3 linked regions of the Homo sapiens genome follow. The protein of the gene in region 3 purifies or fractionates together with the protein of the main gene of each other region. This does not show direct contact. Each region holds a gene or a part of one and is shown on either strand. Other genes may lie near its edges.

The links.
Region 1: the proteins of PIP (region 3) and TOP3A purify together in Homo sapiens (co-immunoprecipitation; 2 studies listed by BioGRID and IntAct, with this or other methods). This does not show direct contact.
Region 2: the proteins of PIP (region 3) and FARP2 purify together in Homo sapiens (co-immunoprecipitation; 2 studies listed by BioGRID and IntAct, with this or other methods). This does not show direct contact.

What each region holds. Positions count from the first base shown.
Region 1 is NC_000017.11:18,308,385-18,312,040, forward strand, and holds part of TOP3A (DNA topoisomerase 3-alpha), read right to left. Parts: intron 558-3,656; coding exon 498-557; intron 41-497; coding exon 1-40. UniProt on the Homo sapiens protein: Releases the supercoiling and torsional tension of DNA introduced during the DNA replication and transcription by transiently cleaving and rejoining one strand of the DNA duplex.
Region 2 is NC_000002.12:241,488,680-241,492,335, reverse strand, and holds part of FARP2 (FERM, ARHGEF and pleckstrin domain-containing protein 2), read right to left. Parts: intron 2,626-3,656; coding exon of another isoform or gene 2,605-2,625; intron 2,375-2,604; coding exon 2,292-2,374; intron 1,276-2,291; coding exon 1,157-1,275; intron 821-1,156; coding exon 657-820; intron 1-656. UniProt on the Homo sapiens protein: Functions as a guanine nucleotide exchange factor that activates RAC1. May have relatively low activity. Plays a role in the response to class 3 semaphorins and remodeling of the actin cytoskeleton.
Region 3 is NC_000007.14:143,135,050-143,137,786, reverse strand, and holds part of PIP (prolactin-inducible protein precursor), read right to left. Parts: intron 2,594-2,737; coding exon 2,488-2,593; intron 1-2,487.

The sequences.
Region 1 (3,656 bases), on a different chromosome or scaffold from region 3:
GTAAATGTCCAGAAACTGAAGTCATTACCATGGTAACATTCTGAATGATGACAAAATTCAAAATTCAGTTAGTCTTTTTGCAGTTATTATTCTGCCAAATCATTAAAATGAGAGGGAGGAGCTTCTATTAAAGACATTTTTAAAAACCTGATTGGGAAGAAATAAACATAAATATAAGCTCTTCAAAGCCAAAAGTCACAGGAATACAATCACCATTCTAATGATATGGTGTATAACTGACGCCTCTTGCATCAGTTAAATTTTCCTCAAACTATTGTATATTAGCTTTTTTTTTTTGTAATGAAGAGCTGAGATGGGACCATATTTTATTAAAAAGAGAACTCCTCATAAATTATAAAGTGATCACCCCATATCCAGGAACCTTTAGGTTGTTAACAGTTGTTATTCTTAAGACAGCGACATATTCTACATATGACGAGGCTGACTACTTTCTCTTGCTTATGATTGAAATATTTTAGAAATATTTTAGCACCTACCTGGCCATACAGATGATAATCAAATTCATAGATCTTGTTGAATTTTGAAAGTCCTTCTCTCTATAAAACAAAAATAAGTAAAAAATATAAATTACGTTTAAAACAATGGATTCCTTTGTATAATTCTTTCTGATCCTGAATTTGGCAATGATTTCTTGGTTATGATACCAAAAATATAACCAACATTGCTCCAAAGAAGATAAGAAATGGCCAACAAGCATATGAAAAGATGCTCAATGTTATTAATCATTAGGAAAACACAAATCAAAACCATGATGAGGTACCACTCCATACCCATTAGGATAATAATTAAATAGAATAATAAAAAAAACAAGTAAAATAACAAGTGTTGTTGAGGATGTGGAGAAATTGGACATTGTCAGTGGAAATGTAAAATGCTTTGGCCACTCTGGAAAATGTTGGTGTTTCCTCAAAAAGTTACAGAGTTATCACATGTCACAGCAATTCCACTCCTACAAATTTACCCAAAAGAATTAAAAACGCATTCAAATACACTTTGGGAGGCTGAGACAGTTGGATCACTTTAGGTCAGGAGTCCGAGACCAGCCTGGCCAACATGGTGAAACCCCATCTCTACTAAAAATACAACAATTGGCCAGGTGTGGTGGTGTGTGCCTGTAATCCCAGTTACTTGGGGAGGCTGAGGCAGGAGAATCACTTGAGCCCAGGAGGTGGACGTTGCAGTGAGTGGAGATGGCGCCACTGCACTCTAGCCTGGGTGACAGAGCGAGACTGTCTCAAAAAACAAAAAACAAACAAAAAAACACATTCAAACAAAAACTTGTACATGAAAGTCTATAGAAGTTCTTTTTTTTTTTTTTTTTTGAGATGGAGTCTGGCTCTGTCGCCCAGGCTGGAGTCCAGTGGCGTGATCTCGGCTCACTGCAAGCTCCACCTCCCGGGTTCACACCATTCTCCTGCCTCAGCCTCCCGAGTAGCTGGGACTACAGGCACCTGCCACCACGCCCGGCTAATTTTTTTGTATTTTTAGTAGAGATGGGGTTTCACCGTGTTAGCCAGAATGTTCTCAATCTCCTGACCTCGTGATCCACCTGCCTCGGCCTCCCAAAGTGCTGGGATTACAGGTGTGAGCCACCACGCCCAGCGAATGTCTATAGAAGTTCTATTCACAATAGTCAAAAGATGAAAACAACCCAAATGTCCATCAACTGATGTATGGTAAAATGAAATATGATCTATCCATATGATAGAATATTATTCAGCCATAAAAAGGAATGAAGAGGCCAGGTGCAATGGCTCATGCCTGTAATTCCAGCACTTTGGGAGGCTGAGGTGGGCGGATCATGAGGTCAGGAGTTTGAGACCAGCCTGGCCAACATAGTGAAACCCTGTCTCTACTAAAAATACAAAAAATTAGCTGGGCGTGGTGGTGGGTGCCTGTAATCCCAGCTACTTGGGAGGCTGAGGCAGGAGAATCGCTTGAACCTGGGAGGCGGTGGTTACAATGAGCCGAGATCTCATCACTGCACTCCAGCCTGAGCGACAGTGAGAGAGACTCCTTCTCAAAAACCAAAAAAAAGGAATGAAGAACTGATATTAATACATGGTACAACATGGATGGACTTCAAGATTATGTTAAGTGAAAGAAACCTGACACAAAAGAGCATGTAAGATATGGGTCCACTTATAGGAAATGCCCAGAACAGGCAAATCCATGGGGAAAGAAGGCAGATTCGTGGTTGTGAGGGGCTGAGGAGAGGGTAAGGGGAGTGACTGCTTAATGGATATGAGGCTTCCTCTTGGGGTGAAAAAAAACCTTCTGGAACTAGATAATGATGATGGTGGCACATTTAGTGGACAAAATTCCACTGAACTATATACTTCAAAATGATTAAAATGGTCAATTTTCTGTGCATTTTACCACTCAACCTACATGGCTCTCTAAGATTCTTATGATCTGCACTCAACTGCTGCTCTTGCTTAACTCATCGGTGTCTCTTCCCACCACACCACACCCCTAACTTCTCACTGTTTCTGAATATGCCAAGCAGTTTCAAGCCACTAGGTTGTTCTTTACAGTTTCTACTGCCTGGTAAAACTTTCAGGCTCAGCTCAAACATGCATTCAACAACTATGAATTTTTTTTTTTTTTTTTGAGACAGAGTCTCACTCTGTTGCCCAGGCTGGAGTGCAGTGGCACAATCTCGGCTCACTGCAAGCTCCACCTCCCGGGTTCATGCCATTCTGCTGCCTCAGCCTCCCGAGTAGCTGGGACTACAGGCGTCTGCCAGCATGCCCGGCTAATTTTTTGTATTTTTAGTAGAGACAGGGTTTCACCGTGTTAGCCAGGATGGTCTCAATCTCTTGACCTCATGATCCGCCCACCTCAGCCTCCCAGAGTGCTGGGATTACAGGTATGAGCCACCATGCCTGGCCTAATTTTTTTTTGAGATGGAGTCTCACTCTGTCGCCCAGGCTGTAATGTAATGGCGCAATCTAGGCTCACTGCAAGCTCCACTTCCCGGGTTGAAGCGATTCTCCTGCCTCAGCCTCGTGAGTAGCTGGGATTACAGGACCCCGCCACCACACCTGGCTAATTTTTGTATTTTTAGTAGAGATGGGGTTTTGCCATGTTGGCCAGGCTGGTCTTGAACTCACGACCTCAGGTGGTCTGCCCGCTTGAGCCTCCCCAACTGCTGGGATTACAGGCATGAGCCGCTGCGCTCAGCCCAAGTATTAATATTTATTGAAAGTTTCCTGCATTCCAGACACCATATTAGGCGTTAGGACATAGCAATTAACAAAATATAATCACTGTCCTTTGGAGTTTAGAGTCCAAGGAGAGGCAGTGACAAAAATCAAATAAATGATCGCACATCCCATTATTTAACTGTAACTAGTAGATGCCTTTCAAGTAGAATAGAGTGCTATGACAGCATGTCAGTAAGGGTCTCTGACCTAGTGTGGGGGAACAGGTGGTGAGGGAAGGATTCCTTGAAGATGAGACATTTCAGCAGCCTCTCTCCTCTAGCCGCCCCAGATGCCAAAAGGAAAGATGGCCAAGGGGAAGAAGTGGCCCTGGCCCCTGTTGTCATGGAGCAGCAGTAGGCCAAAAAGGTGGTAAATCCCATTTGAGAAAAGCCCTAATAATTTTGGCATTGGATATCTAGCCTAAGG
Region 2 (3,656 bases), on a different chromosome or scaffold from region 3:
GGGCCCAGGTCAGGGACCTGCTGCACCCTGACCTACCCAGGGTCATCAGGGGAGAGGCTCGGGCTCAGCCCCCTCACGGGGGTGCTGGGGTAGCTCCTGAGCCCCTGCCCAGCCGATTGTGGCTGGGGTGAATTATGGGGAGACAGCAAAAAAGACAAGAGCTCTGGGTGGAGTAAGACAGCAGGCTTGGGGAAGGGTGTGGGGGCACCAGGCTGAGGAACCTGGTGACCCACAATGGCAGACCGGGCCCATGCAGTGAGATAGAGCTGACAACCTTCTATGGCAGGGTGCCTGGGCAGAGCCTCGAGCTCCAAGCCCGAGGTGAAGGGTTTTGGAGGCACTGGGACGGGGGGCTGCAGGGGATGTGTCTGGGAAGGCTTTTCTCAGCTCCACTACACACCAGCTCCAGGCCCTGAGGACACGCCCCGCCTGCTGGACTTCATCAGACACCAGACCTGAAACACCCTTTTCAAAGAGGGCTTGACTGGATGAGGGGCACTTTCCATACCAACTTCTACCAAGGGGAGAGTAAGAGGCAGTCCTCTGGGGCCAAGCCTGCCTGCTGGTACCCTCCTGAGGTCCCCTCCTCAGCAGCCAAGTGCAGAGACAGCTGGGAACATTCCAGATGCACTGAGGTGGTGCTCATGCGGTCGTACCTCGACAGCTGCACTGTGGTCTGCCCTGGACACGCTGGTGTTCCGGTACCAGCACACGTGCATTGTGGTGTTGGCCCGGTGCTGGCCATGCCCCTCCAGGGAGCTGCGGACACCCCGAGCATCATCTTCTGACTCCTGCTCCAGAGATACCTCGTTGGGGGATCCTGGGGAGAAGTCAGCAGCGTCTCAGGGGGAACCCCCTGTGGCCTCTGCTTGCCAAATACTTCCACCCCTTGGGTTCCTCTCGGGGGTCCTGGGGAAATGGGGAGCCCTTGGTGCTAGGCCAGCTGCTGGCTGAGAGCAAAACTACAGGTGCTTCTGCCAGAGCAGCTGATTGACACCTCTTCCCGCCCAGGCATGAGGCGTAGCCTGGAACATTCCTTGTGGAAGGGGATTGTGTGGGAACTTAGCGGGCCAATGGGGACCAAGGAAAACAGTTTCCAAAAAAAGCCTCCTTAGGTGTAGTGGAGGTCTCCTGGGGGGTTGTGGCCAGCACTCACTGGGGGGACGAGTGCACACAGTGCGGCCTGGCAGTGCAGGGGCCGTGTCACCGCCACTCTTGGCTGCTTGGATCGCGGAGTTCAGGTCCAGCATCCACTTCTCTTTCTCCAGCCGAGTGCTGCAGGGAGAAGGGCAAGGCTCAGTGGCTCTGCTCTTCCTTGTGTAGGGCCCCAGCCCTCAAGGGAGGGCGAGCCGTCAGGGCACCTGTTCTCTCACATTCTGCTTTGTCCTGCCTGGTGAGAGGACTGGGAAACGTGTCCCCTCCAGCGAGAATAGCAGGGAGGAGAGCTGGGAGGGACCTGCATCAGCCTGACCTCCAGGGTGCTGTGACAGGGTTGTGGGTGCCAGGGCAGGGCCCCGGTCCTAGAACAGGGGGTCTGCAGGGGTATTTGTTCCTGAAATGATGTTCTCTACATCTGTGATGCTGAAATGCAAGATTGGCCCTGGTTCATGATTAAGTGAGCATTTCCTGGTGGGAACTGAGTGCCCTGTGCTCTGATGCTGGCCAGGGCGCTGCAGAGTCAGAGCTGAGACTCCTCACAGAGCACAGTGTGGTGCTGGTGACCATGCAGGGGCCCCTGCATCCTGGCCGCCAAATGAGCTCAGTGTCATCCTTCTGTTGATCTTATCTGGGGAGGAGGGAGCTGTTTCCACTTGATTCTGTGCCATAGCCTGGGCTGCCTCATGTGAGTCTATACCACACTGGGACTGGGAGGCAGTGTTTGGCTGGGCTGGGTGTAAGCTGCCCTGTTGGGGCTTTGACCACTAGCTGCTGGCACTTCTTGACGTGAGGGTTGGGGAAGCGCCTGTGCCCTGGGAGACCACAGGAGCCTGCCCACTCACCCGTCCTGTCTTTGGAGGCACTGTGAACCGGAGGGCAGAGGGAGCGGCTCCACAGCACTGGGGCCTGCCACTTGTGGGGTGTTGTCAGGTTGGCAAGCAGCCCTGCCCCTGACAAGGGCGAGGCTGCTCCTTTGGTTGTGTGACTTGGAAGCAGAGCTCAGAGTCAAAGGGGGCACAACCCCATGAGGCTACATGGCTCCTCACAGCTCAGAGGACTCAGAGGCTCATGGCGAGGAAGTCCCCACCCCTCCATCCAGGGCTGCTCAGGATGGAGACATGGAAGACCCTTACCTGGCTGCCACCACGATTGTTTTCTGAGCCGCGTAGATGGTGAAACAGTGTGGAACAGACCACTCGTTATCACTTTCTTCCACCTGTGGGTGGGAGAAACGGTCCAAGTCTTGTGGCCAAGAAGGAACTGACAGCCTAAGCCTGAGCAGGACACAAGGTGACTGCTGGCAATGCTAGGTGGGGCTTGGAAGCCCAGTGCTGTCCAAGTGCACACAGACTCTACAAGAGGCCAAGGAGGACACTGGTATCCCTGCGCCATGGCAGCTGCACCCCAGGGGGTGAGCCATGGGCCAGAGGGCACCCAAATACTCACCGGGGGGTCCAGCACTATTAGCTGAAAATCAAGCAAAGGAAAAAATGTTGAGCATTTTGATTATCCAAAAGGGAGTTGGACAATTCATTTATGAACCAAAGACCAAAACCTAACAGAGCTAGATTCAAAGAAAACCCACTGTGGATTAATTTTAATTTTAAGTAGTTAGATGAAATAATTGCAAAATAAAATATTACCAAATCTAATCTAAAAGCATGTAACAAGGAATTGTCCCACGATCAAGTAAGGTTGTTTGGGGAATGCAAGGATCGTTCGGCATTAGAAAGCTGATTGATAACATTCATCCTATCAGAAGTCAAAGAGAAAAAGGGAAATCCATTCTCTACATGCTGAAAATGCCTTTGCCAAAATCCAAGGTGTTATTTCTGATAATACCTCTTAGAAACAGAAGGAAACTGTGTTAACATGATAAAGATGATCTTTTCAAGCCAAGAGCCATCATCCTTCCCTTAACAGTCAGGAACGAGGGCCAGTTCTCTGTCCCCAGGACCAGCCAGTTACCAACAACTCCACAGAATGGACAGCTTCCCTGTGCAGAGCCTGATACACCAACCAAGCCTCTCACTGGACATCAAAAATCTGAATCAACATAAGCAAGGGCAGGCAAAACATTGTCCAGATGTTAGTCTTCCCGTAAGTTAACACAAAAATTTAATGCAATTTCAACTGAAATCTCCATGGTGTTTTTGTAAGGAATTTGTCCAATGACTTAGAAGATTACTTGGAAGAATTAAATGCTTGAGAATAGCAAAGAATCTTTTTTAAAAGGAGGCAGAATAAGGGATGGAATGTGTTCACCAAACAGTGACTATCTCATATGACACCACTAATGAGAGAGAGTGGACTGATGCTGGACAGACAGGAATGGAGCAGAATGCCCAGAAAGAACTCGAGTGCAAAGACACAGGCTTCCATTTGATAAAGTCTGAGATCAGTGAGAAAATGAAGGATTCAACAAATAATGGGGAGAAATGTTACATCTCAATCTAATATCTATCAAAACAAATTCTAGGCCAGGCACGGTGGCTCAC
Region 3 (2,737 bases):
CTGGGATTACAGGTGCGTGCTACCAGCCCTGGCTAATTTTTGTATTTTTAGTAGAGACAGGGTTTCACCATGTTGGCCAAGCTGGTCTCGAACTCCTGACCTCAGGTGATCTGCCCACTTTGGCCTCCCAAAGTGCTGGGATTACAGGCACAAGCCACTGTGCCCGGCCTTGTTTACCTTTCTGTTACATTAGCAACAACATATCGTCATGAATCAGAATTTACACCACTTGTACAATAAAAGATCAGAATCCGTTGCATGCCTAGCATGGCACGTGGGACGTGTTGCCAAAGACCAGTGCAGTTTAATGTACTTCTTCAAGCTAAGTAACAACATCCATCACACAGATAATGTGTTCATAGAATAAAATTCAACTCTTCTATATTTTAAATGTATTGCTTTCCCAGCTAATGTGTGCATAAAGAAACACATACCTTACTGCATCACAAATTTATTTTTTACAAGTTAGTCACTGTTACTCAATGTGGTAGTTTCTCTCTGTAATCCAATGCACTTTATACATTTAGAAGCAATTTTCTGATAAATGTTTCATAAACTTCATGAAACCAACGAAATGGCCTGTAGCACAAAAATGTTTAAGCATTGTTTTTGCCACAAGTTTCCTTCAGCTTTAAAGGATTATGCAATCTTTATATTCAAATATACGATTGTAGGTATATTCTATTCTAATTCTAAAATAAATAAATATGAGTCTAAACCTCACTTTTTCAAAAATTCAGTTACAGAAAACATTATAAATGATAAAAAATGAGGATTAGATGGTAAGAATTTTATAGTTATATAAATATATTTTAATAAAAATTTAAAAATAGTTATACTTTGAAAAATGAAGCCACAAATAAAAATTTGTTGACTAGAATTAACAAAATTTCCTTTCCTGTAAATTATTTCTAGTTTGCAAAGTCAGTTAGTCTAAAGATTTCTTATTCTTTTAGTTGTGCTTAGGTGGGTTTTGAAAAGATTGCTTTATTTTAGAGTACTAGCATGATTCTTAAAAGCATACTTTTATTAATCACAAAAGCACAAAATTATGTCACATGTAATTTTATTGATTCAAACATATCTTATTATACCTACCACTACCATTAACTATTACCACCAGAAACCACCATTTTCACAAAAATTTTATGTACACATTATGTACATGTTCTTATTCTCATTCTCACCTGTGTTTGTGATAAACAAAATACAGAGTTGAAAAATTATGATTCAGCCTTGCTCCTACCCCAAATTAGTGTACATGTCTCAGATTCTTGGACTGAAAATAGAAAAATTTGACAAAGCAGCTGTGATATTCTTTGCTCATTGACCAGGAATTTTTCTTTACAGGTGTGGGGATATTTCTAGAATGCAGTTGACTGAATAGCAATCTTCATGTTCTCAATGTTGTTTTACATGTAATCATTGTCCTTAAGTCTCATTTGAATTAGGAAACTTATGTTGTAAGGAAATACTTGTGCTGCCTGATAGAAGGTGTCCTTCATGAAGGGTCTGGGGAGGGAGTAGGGGAGATGGGAGATGCATGGGTCTTGGCCCTAGAACAAAGGTAGTGGGGGCAGTTTGCATGCTTGTGACATCTGAGATCAATGACTAGGAAAAGGACACACAACCAGTGTCCCAGGGAAGAGTCACTGTGGATTAATAACTGCATAAGTCTATTTGACTTCTGGCCCTTGGCAGCTAGACAGGAGGGATAATGCTCTAATCCCAAGCTGCTCAAAAATGTGATCCTTTGGGCACAGCCTTGGTGTACCTTGGGCGTCTGTTAAAATCCAGAAGTTCTAATCTCTCCCCAGACCTGCTGAATGAAACTCTGAATTTTAACAAGATCCCCGAGTGAGTTTTAGACACATTACCATTTGAAAACCTCTGACCTTGTTCAGAGATTGGACTTCTGAACGTGGGGAAAAGGAGGAGATGATTACGAGCTCCTTGTCAGGGTGGGGAGGCTGGAACAAGAGTCCACTTCTGGTGACCCAGAGCAAAGGAGCAGAAGAAGGCAAGAGGACAGTAGAGTCGCTCAGTGCTTACTGGAGAGGAGGAGTCATATCCTGCATGTCCTCTTCTGCCCACCCACCTCAACCTATGGTGTGGAGTTGCTGCTTTCTCTTCTGAGAACTCCCCTCCCTCCATCCTAAACTAAACATGCTCAGGACCTTGGAAGGACTCTAACTGCTTCTCTACTAGCTCTTACACTTTTTTCTTTTTCCCTCTTTCTCACTTCCTATTCCTTCTTCCTTTCCTTCTTATTTATCCTAGACTTCTCTGGATTCGAACTTCTTCATCTGGAAAATGAGAAGTCATCTGTCCCAAGCTCCCACAGTTGTTCTGAGTCTCAAGTAGCATAACATAAGTGAGAATGTTTCATTAAGTACACTGTACATTATTAAAGTGAGAGATTAAATTATGTTTATAATCAAGGAGTTGAATTATCTTTTGAAGTCACGCCCCCAGTCCTCTACTTACCACCATGCATTCTTTCAATTCTGTTTGAACTGCAAGCACTGCAGTGACTTCGTCATTTGGACGTACTGACTTGGGAATGTCAAAATTCTTTATTATGATCTTCCGACTGATTGTGGGAAGAGAGAATCAGAACACCAGGATCAGAGACCAATCTTTGAGTGAGGGGGGAGCCATGAACAGGGCAAGGGGCACAGGATGGGCAAGGGAGGGAAATTATGGGGCTTGGATCAATTGTTCAGCATTGGAATCC